Linked DNA regions of Homo sapiens. The protein of the gene in region 2 purifies or fractionates together with the protein of the main gene of each other region. This does not show direct contact. Each region holds a gene or a part of one and is shown on either strand. Other genes may lie near its edges.

Region 1 (4,376 bases), on a different chromosome or scaffold from region 2:
GGGCTTGCCCTGGCCTCAACTTCCAATTCCCTGGAATGGCTACAAAACCCTTCAGAACTGGATTCCAGAAGATTATTTCATACCATCACTTCAAATTCCTCAGGTAATAAATGCTAAGGGGGTGGGGGACTCATATCTCACATCTTTTTTTTTTTTTTTTGAAGAGTCTCACTCTGTCACCCAGGCTGGAGTGCAGTGGCATGATCTTGGCTCACTGCAACCTCCGCCTCCTGGGTTCAAGCAATTCTCCTGTCTCAGCCTCCTGAGTAGCTGGGACTACAGGCGCCAGCCACCAGGACTGGCTAATTTTTGTATTTTTAGTAGAAATGGGGTTTCACCATATTGGTCAGGCCGGTCTCGAACTCCTGACCTCAGGCGATCTGCCCACCTCGGTCTCCCAAAGTGCTGGGATTACAGGCCAGCCACCTGTAAGATATGAGCCACCGCGCCCGGCCTCATATCTTAACATAAATTAATTCAATGCAAATACTTTCCTCTTTATAGAGTGTTAAATCAGTTGTATGGAATTAAGATTTTTGAGGGAGAGGGAAGGTAGGCAATTTCGAATATAGAGCATTCTAGTGAGAAGCAGAGGAAAGCAAAGCGACTTGGCACTCAGAAGGGTACCAGGGGGTGAGTGAGGGGGTGAGAAACAGAGATGGAAAGGGATCAAAATAATCTCACCTACTTGGACTAGTGTCATAGCTAAGGTACACTATAAATTAAGTTGGCTCCCAGACTAGCCACAAAACTGCTACTACCAGTTCTACAGGAAAATGGCTCTTTACATCCAGCATCAACCTAGATTTCAACTCTGGGAACATGGGTCCTTTGGAATGTTGGGGATTGCTTCTATAGTCCTAACCATGATACTAGAAAAAAGAGGGAATGCATGTAACACAAGGCAAATACCTAGTTAAAAAAACAAAGCATCTACATTTGACTTTGGAACATAAACACACACACACAGACTGCTTATCCCCAAACCCTCATTTCAGGATTTAGCCGTAACACCTACCATTGGATTTTACTATTTGATGGTGATAGGAAGTTGCCTCTGAGTTTCGGTCTTATCATCACTCACTTGGTGACAACGCAAATATCCTCAGATTTCAAACCTAGACTAGCTTATCCAATCCTTCAAGAGGAGTCATGTTACTATCTTGTATTCCATTTCACCACACTTTCAGTCTCTAACAAGGGGGTTTGATTTTGGTTTGATGGTTGTTCTTGGCCACATTCAGGAGAATGATCCTACTCCAACATAGTTCAAGCTCCTTTGCACCTTAGCAGAGCAGACTCTGGTCACAGCCTTTGCTGTTTTCTTCCAGCCACTACACAGCCATTCCACCTCCTGTTAACAGCCCCATGATTTTGCTATAGAAGAACTGCTCTTGTCCCACTGTGTGCTACAGCCTGATGTGCTCCTCTCCCCTACCTCTGGGCTAACCATACAACCAAAGCCAAACCAATCAGAAACTTTGTCCTCGGAATATGAATCCTGAGAAGAATGACAAAGGCAATAAATAAATGAAGCTGACTTATCTCAACGGAGGCCTGAAAATGCAACCTTGCTAGTGCCTGCTACATAGATTCCTGGAGTTAGCTTGGTTTTTGTCCTTCTTCCTGGCCCAGTTTTTTAGCTTTTCTTTTAAGTCCAAGAGCAACCCTGTATCTTTACAATAAACTACTTTTTCCATTCAAGCCAGACAGTTTCTGTTCTTGTTATTAAAGAACCCTAATATATTTCCACGTGGTATTCACTGTTCCTTGTCATGCCTTCCAAACCCATCCTAATACAGCTTCTAGACTGAGCTTCTTAGAACAAAGCTTTGATCGCTCACCCAACATACACGTTAAATATTCCTATTATTAATTCAACTTATTTACTGAATTCCAATTCTGTACAAGGCATGGTTAGATTTATCTGAAATATAGGGGTGCACCAAACAGACAAGACCCCCACTTTCTAGTGAGATAAATCAGATGCTAAGGAAACAAATAAAAAAGACAACCTCAGATTCTGCTAAAAGTTATGGTGGAAATAAATAAGGTGCTATATCGCTGGATGCAGTGCCTAGAGAGGATGGTCAGAAAATACCTTGATGGAATATTTCAGCTGAGACCTAAGATCTGAATGAAGAGAACCAGCTTTGATCCTGTTTAAAAATAAAATAATAAAAACAATTGTTCTCCATTAGGCTAAAATTTTTAAAACAATGACTAAAGGTCTCTATAAAATCTGGTTTCAAATGACTTTTAAAATTTTCTTAGCCAGGTGTGGTGGCTCATGCCTGTAATCCCAGCACTTTGGGAAGCCAAGGCGGGTGGATCACCTGAGGTCAGGAGTTCGAGACCAGCCTGGCCAACATGGTAATACCCTGTCTCTACTAAAAATACGAAAATTAGCCGGGTGTGGTGACGGGCGCCTGTAATCCCAGCTACTCGAGAGGCTGAGGCAGGAGAATCGCTTGAACCTGGGAGGTGAAGGATGCAGTGAGCTGAGATCGTGCCACTACACTCCAGTCACCACTGGGTGACAGCTGAGCCAGAGCGAAACTCCGTCTCAAAAAAAAAAAAAAAATTTTTTTTTCTTTCCCTTAGTTATTCCCTAGTGATCCCTTTCTGCTCCAGATACTCTGTCTCTAAGACCTAACCTGCACATCTGACTTCTCCCACTCCCCAATCTGGAAAGTCCTAGAACTCACCTAAACCCCTCCTCAGCACACTACTCAGAATATTAATCACCTTTCAAAGCTCAGGTCAAGTTCCAGCTACTCCATAAAATCTTCCATTATGGGTTGAATTGTGTCCCCACTCTTCCCTCCCAAATTTATATGATAAAGACTTAGCCTCCAGTACCTGGAGAATGTAGTCATACTTGGAGACATGGTCTCTAAGAGGTAATTAAGTTAAAATGAGGGCTTTAGGGTGACCCCTAAACTGATGTAACTGGTGTTCTTACAGGAGAGGAAGATTAGCACAGAGACATGAACAGAGGAAGGACCAAGTAGGGACAAGAAGATGCCATCTATAAGCCAAAGAGAAGCCTCAGAAGAAGCCAACCCTGCTGACACCTTGTTCTTGGACTTCTAGCTTTCAGAACTGTGGGAAAAGAAATCTGTTGAGTCATCCAGTCTGCAGTACTTTGTTATAGCAGCCCAAGCAAATGAATATACCTTCCTTGACTACTTCATCTTATAACGTGCAAATACCTCAACTTCAGCACCATTTACATGTTTATTCACTGCCTTTATTGTTAGTCATTTGTGTCTCCCCAAGAGGACTGAAAGCTATTTAAAGACTGATAATCTATTTAATATCTTTTGGCATTATCAATGCTCAACATGTTATCTTCCACAACAATAAAGATTTGACTTTTCTGTACTCTTCACTCCAATTAAATGCACGAGTGAAAATTATGGCTGTTAGTTGTTTTGCTGAAGTAAAGCGTATTACATCACTGCCCTGCTTTGGAGTACTGTACTGATTTTTCTATTCCTAAAGAAAATCCAAACTACAGACTGGCATACAAGACTTTTCATACTCTGGTTACAATTCATCTCTCCACCCTTATTGGACACTACTTACCATCTACTCTACAAACTTGCATATCCAGCCTCTGCCACCCAAAATCTCTCTCTTCCCTCTCCTTTACTTGGCTAACTTCTTTCGAAAGATCCAGTTGAAATGTCACCGACTCTACAAAGCTTTTGTAATTTGCCCCTAGCCAGCAGCTCAGTCATCTAAACTACCACAATACTTCATCTCTCTGTAATAACACCACAACTTCTTCAATTAATCTTCTTTTACATGTGTCTCCCCCAAGGGACTCCCTAAAGAAAGAACCCTTGTTTGCATGCACGTATCCCTGATGCCCAGCACAAGGCCTGGCAAGCTAGGTACAGGGCAAAGAGAGAAATCATCAAACTTGAGGCTCAAGACCTGGACTGGCTCACCTTTATTTCTCCAGCATCCGTTACAGAGCCCCAAAACGTGGCAGTATTCTTTGCTTTTTCTATTAGACCTTGTGACTTTAATCACTACTGGACGATGATTCCCAAATCTGTATCTCTGTTTAGACTCTTGAGGCTCCAGCCTCTCAGGTACCTACTGAACGGTTCCATCACAGTATATCCTCAGGTCCAGCATGGTACTTAAACTCCACAACTCTCGTCCCTGCTCCCACATCTGTTTGTCCTCACATATTCCCGATTTACTTTGGTGTGTTGCCAGACCCTAAAATTTCTTCTCTTTCCCTTATAGCCTATCACTGTGACCTGGTCAAACCTAGCTCTTACATAGCTTATAATCTGCTCTCTCTACTTCCATTGGCTTTGCGGACAACTAAAACTGTCCCTTCGGCTGGGCGCAGT
Region 2 (4,698 bases):
GTGTAATTGAAAGAACTGCAAATATGGGGCATAGAAGCAGCCCTGGGAGCTGTAAAATGATGAGAGAGGACAAGGAATATGGCTGACATGGCTGTGCCAGGGACTCTCTTAGGATTACTTAGGAAGCAGGTCTTTGGCCATTTGACTCACACTAAGTTCATGCACAGAACAAACCACAATGGAGATGATAAATCTTGGCACAGCATCAGTGGGTACTGGCAGTGATTCTGCCAATTTCTCTCATGACTGTGACCACCGACGTTCTTTTTACCTGTATTAGGTCATGTGTGTAACAAAATTTAGAGATCTATCTACCTTGATAGGTTAAGAGATAAATGTTAATATACCTGTAAAACTCAGAGCATAATGACTAGACTATAAAAGGCACCCACTGGAGGTGAATTATTTTGCCATCACCTGATACTCTACTCCCTTAGGTTTTTATAAACCTATAAAATCTAAGGCAAAAGGTATTTGACCATTTGGTTGTTTCTGTCTTTCAGGATTGATATGTATATAGAAGGTATAGCAGATTTGGGTGAAATGATCCTCCTTCTGCCCGTATGTCCACCTGAGGAAAAAGATGCCAAGCTTGCCTTGATCAAAGAGAAAATAAAAAATCGCTACTTCCCTGCCTTTGAAAAAGTAAGTGAAGCAGTTCAGTGTTTTGGGGAACTGAGTTTAGAGGCCAATAGAAAAATAGTGGCTGGGCATTCCTGGGTCACTGATCTTCACTTTCAGTGAGACTTCCTGAACACCAATGCAGCACTCTGACTCTCAAGGCATTTTATGAAAATAGACTTGGAGAAACAATTGTATCATTTATACCCAAGCTATACTTTTCCAGTAAAATTTTAATTTACTGGACCCCAACATGGAATTACCTGTTCAACAAGATTTCATGTTCATAAGTAGAATGTGGGCTCTGGACCACACTAGAGGTTGCTGTTGAGTCTATGGAACCCCATGGACTTTGACTGAACAGGGGCATGATGAAAGCGATCCATCAGAAAATATTCTGGCACCATATGCAGGAAGATAGGAGACCAATTGCCCAACCAGAGAATACTGTAGCGTTTCAGGGATGGGTATTTTTTAAAAGGAGAGTGATTGTGGGATGCAGAGGAAGATTTTTTAAAATGGATTTTAGAGTAAGTTGCAGACATCAGTGCAGTTCACCCGTAAACGCTTCAGCTTGCAGATTATAACATAGTGCCAGTTGGGAGTGAGAGTCAATGCTGTAAGAAAGATGAATTCAGGTTCACCCAGGTTTCCTACAGATCCCAGGGAGATAGAGCAGGGAATGAGGAGAGCAGACAAAGAGAAATGAGGACTCTGAAATAGTCTCCTCCTGGGGAAGAGTGTTGTCATGAAGGTGGAGTCACTGCCCAAGGGAGATTGGAGAGGGAGAGAGCAGAATGTAGAGCCACATCCTGAATGTGAGGGCTCCACGCTGTAGGGCCTGGGGCAGACAGAACACATGGAGGCAGGTGCTAAGCCCCTGGCCCATGTGGAAGAAGCAAGCTGCGTGGGTGGTGTAGATGCCACAGTGATGTAGAATGAGAAGAGAAAATGGGAGCCTGAGCTACAACTGAGGAGTGAGTAGAGTTACAGTTCTTACTCTCTCATTCATTCAGATAATGTGGAGAAAGCTCTGGATTTCTGCACCCATGCAGTAAGGCAACAGAGGTGGGGAAAGTCAGGGTGGAGAGGCTCCGAAAGAAGCAGGGGTCCTAGCCTGGGTGTGCATGTGTTCCTGATCTGATTCCTCCCATTCTCCAGGTCTTAAAGAGCCATGGACAAGACTACCTTGTTGGCAACAAGCTGAGCCGGGCTGACATTCATCTGGTGGAACTTCTCTACTACGTCGAGGAGCTTGACTCCAGTCTTATCTCCAGCTTCCCTCTGCTGAAGGTGACCCATTTCACAGCCCAGAGAGGCAGCCCCACATCTCCCATCTTGGGATCTTGTATCTGGGCCCTGCGACTGACCAAGTTTTGCCCCAGTCTTCTCCAGGCCTTCAGTGCCCCAAGGTCTCCAAAATGAGCTTCCAGGCTCCAATTTTGAGGAATGAAAACACTTTTGTTATGGAAAGGAAATCTGTGCTGCATGCTACCCCACAAAGAGTATTTTGCCCTTTATTATGGAAAGAACCCAGGGCCCAGCATCTCTCCCCATCCCTCTATTTCAATGTGGTTTCTGTTCCTGAGTTCTCTGTGATGTCCTTTATCCCATATGTGCCCACAATGAGCCGGTCTGAGCAGAGCCCTTTCCATCTGGTTTCCTCCCTGGGCTCCGGCTCCTGCTGTCTGACATTGTGTTCCTCTCTGCACAGCTCTCCAGAACACTGGCCCCCCACACTGTATCTCTCACTGAGAAAAGGTGGTCCCATGGTTTGTCTTTAATATTTTCTATAACTATTCCCTTCCCAAATAATTTCCCCATGTTTTCACTTCTGCTTAGAGACTCATCTGTGTTGATATCTCACAGGCACATTATTTTTTCTTGTCTTATACAAGAGTCACTAATCTATAGGATTAGTGTGTAAGGAGAAAGATAGAGATGACTGAACTGATTAAAACTTCAAGACATCTTTGGGGAAAATAAAGTGAGCTACATGTCCTTCCCCTTATCTTCATTTCTCACTGGGTGTCTGTTTCTGCCTCCATGCTTGTGCTGATGGAGCAGACTCACTTGGTCTTTGCAGGAGGGGCTCAGATTCCCTGGGTCATGTTAATGGTGGTGTCAGCCCTTGGCTTCACTCTGAGGCTGTGCTTTATGAATTACAGGCCCTGAAAACCAGAATCAGCAACCTGCCCACAGTGAAGAAGTTTCTACAGCCTGGCAGCCCAAGGAAGCCTCCCATGGATGAGAAATCTTTAGAAGAAGCAAGGAAGATTTTCAGGTTTTAATAACGCAGTCATGGAGGCCAAGAACTTGCAATACCAATGTTCTAAAGTTTTGCAACAATAAAGTACTTTACCTAAGTGTTGATTGTGCCTGTTGTGAAGCTAATGAACTCTTTCAAATTATATGCTAATTAAATAATACAACTCCTATTCGCTGACTTAGTTAAAATTGATTTGTTTTCATTAGGATCTGATGTGAATTCAGATTTCCAATCTTCTCCTAGCCAACCATTTTCCTGGAATTAAAAATTCAGTAAAAAAGGAAACTATAGATTATGTGGTTTGTTTGACTTTTCCAAGAATTGTCCCGTAACATACAATTTGTCATACAATCTATTAAAATGTCAATGTAGAAATGCACTTCTGACATTTTCAGGTATGCACAGGAGAAGAGTTACCATCCTGGATAATGGCATAAAGACATTTTCTTCTTTTCCTGGACAGTCATTTTATTTCTGATAAAAGCGTTCTTTCTTATGCATTTGCAAAACAATGATTCTGTCTGCTGTGGATTCCTCAGTTTTCTAGGAGGTGAGGAAATACTGAAGAGCAAACAGACCCACCCTCTGCTCTCAGGCCACCCTATTGTCCCTTACAGTGTGTGTGCTCCTGGCTCATCCTCACTCTGCTCCTTAAGGCTCTGTGGGGTCCCAGGCATAAGCCTTCTCTCAGTTCCTTCAGTGCCACTCAGGCCTGGCTGCCACGATACAGATGGTATATGTGAAATACAAATAACTATATGCAAAATCATTTTTCCCTGGTGTGTCACTGTGCCAGAATGCTTAGATTAGGAGTGCTTTCTAGCTCCACCCCCATACTGGTCCCATAGTGCTAATCTCTCCCAGGACACCTGGGCTTCTGCAATTTGCACTCTCCTCCTCTTAGAGGGAGCTTCCCCACAGTTGGCAGAGGTGGTTGAGGGAGCAGACAAACACACAGGCTTCCTACCTGCAGCTTCACTTTGCTCTAGTCTCTTCTCCACTTACAACCAGAGTAGTTTTTCCAAAATACAAATTGGAAAAATACTCACAGAATTCTTCAGTGAGTCCTGACTGCATATACAATGCATCCTCACACCTGTCTTCACTCCGTGATCTTCAGCCCAGTCAACTCTCCGAGCATGGTGGGGCCTCTTGCCTTCCTGCCTGGGTGCGTTTGCTAGCCCTGCCTGGCAAGCTCCTTCCCAGTGGACACACTTAACACTACCTCATTGCTTCCCAGGAGCACTGGGCTGTCCTCTGCCCTCCACAGAGTCCCAGTGAGCCTCTAATAACACCTGAGGGCCACTGTGTCTGCTCCCCTGTACTGTGAGCCTGTGGTGTGAGGCTTGGCCTGCTGGGTCCCCAGTGCTTCATCACTAATGGACAATGACATCTGCACAGACCCATGCACAGCTCTATGCAACTCCAGAACCTGGGTATATGAGATTGGGCTTTGAGAACTCACAAACCCCCACACTCTCTACCTGTCTCTATTCATTCATTAATTTCTAAAAAAAAAAAAAAAAAATTGACTCATATCCCTCAAATGCTTTGTAAGGACCTTGCTTGCATGCTGACCAAAATAAACAAACTGCTAAGAAATTTTTATGGGACACTTACATGAACTAGAACGCTGGAGCTTTGATGAAATTAAAGAATTATAGAATTTTAATATGATAAGAGATTATCATATTAAACACAATCATAGTGTGATTATGTTTAGAAAAGAAGTTCTTCCTTTCTAGAGATGAATACTAGTATTTACAGATGAAATGATATGCTGTCTGGGATTTGCTTGAAAAGAATCC
Region 3 (4,376 bases), on a different chromosome or scaffold from region 2:
AATCTTATCTTCCTTTACAAACCTTTCTTTCAGGCTTATAATTTCAGTACTGACCATCTTGAAGTTGAAGTCTTGAGTGTTTAGTAAAGTGTCTGGAACATCAAACCATGACCAGAAAGCTGCAGTACCCATGGAGATGACAATAAATAACATTTTCCTTAAACCAATTCACACACTGAAATCAGCAATCAAACACAAAATGATGTTTCCCTGATATCTGCATCCCTTTTTCTTTCCCTTTCTTTACTCCTGCCATTTTGATAATTAGACATGAGGCTGGGCAGTTCAAATTCCAAACACTCAAACCTGCCAATGGCCTTGTCTATGAAAACAAACCTATTTCACATTAAGATCAAAAGCAAAACTTTTTGAAGGAAGCCAGATATTTAGGAACAATTTAACAAAGAATTACTGGCAACACAAGAGTTCCCAGACATGTAGGGGAAAAAATGTCTAAAAAGACTGAAGTCAGATGAAGAGAATCATGGACTTTTTTCCAAACTGCCTTATAACCCTGCTAGTGGGCAATGAGATGAGACAGGTAGCTGCCACTGCCTGCTGCCCCCATTAAAATCCACAGCTTTAACTGCATTAGAGCAGAGAGGCGCTTTCCAGATATTGCTGAGGCACTAACCCTCTGAAGAATTTCCAACAAAGTCTTTACTCATTAGACCCAGAGTAACATAATGGGGTTCCCCGCTGCACTGTAAACCCCATCTTTTCAAGCTGTTCAATAATAAAAGGCTTTAGGAAATAACAGTGAATGACGTTTATAGGCCAGAGCCCTGGACCAGTTTCCAGGGAAAATGTCTAGGAGAAAACAAGAAGTTGAATTTTGACTTAACAACTTAAAAATAGAATCCCAAACAGGTAGCAGCAGAAAAAAGTCAAATGCCAGCAATCACTGTTAACTGATGTCCTGAGGTGGGTTACCCACAGACCCTCAATGTGGACTAACCGTGGCCCATTTCCGTCTGGGCGTAGGTGCCAATTATCTGGAGTCCTTTGGATGAAAGCAGCCATTTCTCTTTCTGAGCAGTGGTGCCCTGATTCAGCAAGGTAGGAATAAACATGGAGTAATTGAGGCCCACAGGTTCCACAAAATTGACCAAATGTAGTCTACAGGAGAGAAGAGAAAAGGATCTCAGCCTTCCTTTAGAAACTGCATCCTACAACCCCTTCTTGCCAAACAGCTTTGGCCTTCAAGGAGAAGGTCAGGAAAATGTAAACCCCCTTCTTATGAAATTAAATATAAGATTTACCATTTTACTACCTAAAAAGCCAGCAGCAGAACCTGATGATCTCTCTTCTTCTAATTATTTCAAGGCCACAGTTCCCACAGTTCATTTCGTATTTACATTTAATCCACTAAGCAAATTCTACCTAAGTTTTAGCATAAAAACTTCTCTAATTTTTGGAAGGGGAGGTTGTTGGTGTTATTTGCTGGTTTGATTGGTTGAATTTTTTAGAATGTGTGTGGTTTTTTTTTTTTGCTTTATTTAGGTTTTACCTGTTTGTTTCAAAGAGCAAAAATAACTCCATAGAACACTTATTTATAGCGCTGTTAACAAGAGCTCCAAGGAAGAAATAATTTCAACTATGTTTCCCTAGATAATATAAGCAAATATCCAAAAGAGTAAATACATATTCCAGGGCAGAATCATACATCGCTAAAGGTCTTCAGGGTTTACAATAAGTAATGTGGGCATGTAAAAATTTATCCCCAATGGTCAATGAACATTACTACGGATTAACTCTACATCACATTGAAATTTAGTCCTCAACTCTCTTCTTACAAAACAGAATCCACAGTAGTTGGCCTTGGCTGTGCTGTGTCATAGATTTTATAGGGATCAATTTTGTACTTTGACAAAGCTCGTATCTAAAAAGTTTAAAGTACAAAATACATCTCATCTAACTGATCTTCACGACTTCTCAACACATGATTAGGAAGCAATGTTACTACCAGTTTATCCTAACCTGTGCAATGAGCAGAGCATGAACTAAAGGACAGAAGGGATAGGCTGCCATTGCAGTGCTGGGGGACCCTGAAACCAAACTACCACCTTAAAAGAAATAATAGTAGCCGGGCGCGGTGGCTCACGCCTGTAATCCCAGCACGTTGGGAGGCCAAGGCGGGTGGATCACGAGGTCAGGAGATCGAGACCATCAGATCGAGACCATCCTGGCTAACATGGTGAAACCCCGTCTCTACGAAAAATACAAAAAAAAAATTAGCCGGGTGTGGTGGTGGGCTCCTGTAGTCCCAGCTACTCAGGAGGCTGAGGCGGGAGAATGGCGTGAACCCGGGAGGCGGAGCTTGTAGTGAGCCGAGATCGCACCACTGCACTCCAGCCTGGGCGACAGAGCGAGACTCTGTCTCCAAAAAAAAAAAAAAAAAAAAAAAGAAAGAAAGAAAGAAATAATAGTAAACACAATATACCCTTATTTTTCTATTTCCTAAATAAGTACTACACGGTTATCCCCGCCATTTCTTTTTTTTTCTTTTTTGGAGACAGTCTCCCTCTGTTGCCCAGGCTGGAGTACAGTGGTGTGATCCCAGCTCACGGCAACCTCTGCCTCCTAGGTTCAAGTGATTCTCATGCCTCAGCCTCCCAAGTAGCTGGGATTATAGGCGTGTGCCACCAAGCCCGGTTAATTTTGTATTTTAGTAGAGAAGGCGTTTTGCCATGTTGGCCAGGCTGGTCATGAAGTGGCCTGGCCTCAAGTGATCTGCCCACCTCAGCCACCCAAAGTGCTGGGATTACAGGCGTGAGCCACCATGCCCCAGTCCCATTGTCTTTTCTATCTTACATAAATCATAATCCACTTAGAAACAAAAAACTCTCAACATGGATGCTCTTAGATACGAATATTTCTAATTAATCAAAATGAATTAATGTAATCATTATAGATTCCACCAGAGGGAACGACTTCTGCGTCCTAATCATGTGTTTAGAAGCTGCTCATTAACATCAGTTAAAAATGTTTTCTCAGCCAGGCGCAGTGGCTTATGCCTGTAATCCCAGCATTTTGGGAGGAAGGGGCGGGTGGATCACAAGGCCAGGAGTTCGAGACCAGCCTGGCCAACATGGTGAAACCCCATTTCTACTAAAAATACAAAAGTTAGCTGGGTGAGGTGGCAGATGCCTCTTCACCTGCTGATAATGGAAATAAATGGAAATGCAGAGAGAGAGAGAGAGAGAGAAAGAAAGAGAGAGAAAGAAAAAGAAAGAGGAAGAGAAAGAGAAAGAAAAAGAAAGGAAAAGAAAGAAAAGAAAAGAAAGAAAGAAAGAAAAGAAAAGAAAGAAAGGTGATGTATTTCACAATTAATAGCATGTCACGGTTAACTGGCAGCATTCTTTCTTTCTTAGTGGTACACAAAACACTGGTGTGAGTTATAATCGATGAGATTATATAACCGAGGCTTTAACTCGATAGCATGCGATAATTTCCAGGACTCATTTACAAACCCCTTCTCTTACTTAAAAACTGATCTCCTTGTCATATCCTAAGGACATTGGAAGTGTGTCAAAGGGTGTGTTAAAGTTTGTACTTTAATACTTCACATGAAAAATGATACACAAAACAACTTCCCGGTGTCCATGAATCTTTAACCCGCATAAAAGACTTTGTTCTATTTCATTGTGACCTCACTCGAGTCTGGTTCACATTATCAACAGGTCACAGGTTATGAAATCATCTCTATCAGCTTTGAAATGCACTGCACCACCCATTCAAACACACACACACACACTCAACCCACTTTTTTCCTGACGTTTCAAGAAGGAATAAAATCTTACTAATTTTTTCAAATTTACAAACACAACACAGGTATCAGTAACATAATCTTCTAGGAGGAGTTACTCTATCTCAATATCCCCACAGCCATGAGTTACAAACTTCAAAAACAAAACAGACCATTTGGAAGTATGCTGATTTGAACTACCAAAAATAAATAAACAAAATTTTTTCGTTTAAAACTGAGTGGAGCTCTGAGGAAAGTCCAAAGTGCCAGAGTAAACCATTTCATCTTCACAAAAATAACCCAAGTCAAGCTGAAAATCGATACCAAAGGCACTAGAGGCAGTGACCATTATTACCATAAAGGCAGAACGTGCAACATGTTCTATTTAGCTTGGTTCTAGTCTATACACCACTCATACGATTTAGTCTTTACCGATGAAAATACTGGAGTTCCTTTAAAATGGAGAAACCTAAAAGAGAAAATGCCCAGGAATAAATGAGAAAAAAATGCTATAGGCCAAAATAATCTTGTACTAGGATCATGTAATAGTGTTTGTTTAGGTTAAGGCAAAAAAGTCTTTTTTTTTTTTTTTTTTTTTTTTGAGACAGAGTCTCTCTTTGTTGCCCAG

What was found. The genes of interacting proteins can lie anywhere in the genome.
Region 1: the proteins of GSTA1 (region 2) and ZBTB21 purify together in Homo sapiens (affinity purification with mass spectrometry; 2 studies listed by BioGRID and IntAct, with this or other methods). This does not show direct contact.
Region 3: the proteins of GSTA1 (region 2) and ACOX1 purify together in Homo sapiens (affinity purification with mass spectrometry; 2 studies listed by BioGRID and IntAct, with this or other methods). This does not show direct contact.

The regions. Positions count from the first base shown.
Region 1 is NC_000021.9:42,003,861-42,008,236, forward strand, and holds part of ZBTB21 (zinc finger and BTB domain-containing protein 21), read right to left. Parts: exon of another isoform or gene 3,960-4,376; intron 1-3,959. UniProt on the Homo sapiens protein: Acts as a transcription repressor.
Region 2 is NC_000006.12:52,790,072-52,794,769, reverse strand, and holds the end of GSTA1 (glutathione S-transferase A1), read left to right. Parts: intron 1-503; coding exon 504-645; intron 646-1,782; coding exon 1,783-1,914; coding exon of another isoform or gene 1,915-2,046; exon of another isoform or gene 2,047-2,722; intron 2,723-2,789; coding exon 2,790-2,912; 3' UTR 2,913-3,399; downstream 3,400-4,698. UniProt on the Homo sapiens protein: Glutathione S-transferase that catalyzes the nucleophilic attack of the sulfur atom of glutathione on the electrophilic groups of a wide range of exogenous and endogenous compounds.
Region 3 is NC_000017.11:75,972,667-75,977,042, forward strand, and holds part of ACOX1 (peroxisomal acyl-coenzyme A oxidase 1), read right to left. Parts: intron 1,120-4,376; coding exon of another isoform or gene 959-1,119; intron 1-958. UniProt on the Homo sapiens protein: Involved in the initial and rate-limiting step of peroxisomal beta-oxidation of straight-chain saturated and unsaturated very-long-chain fatty acids.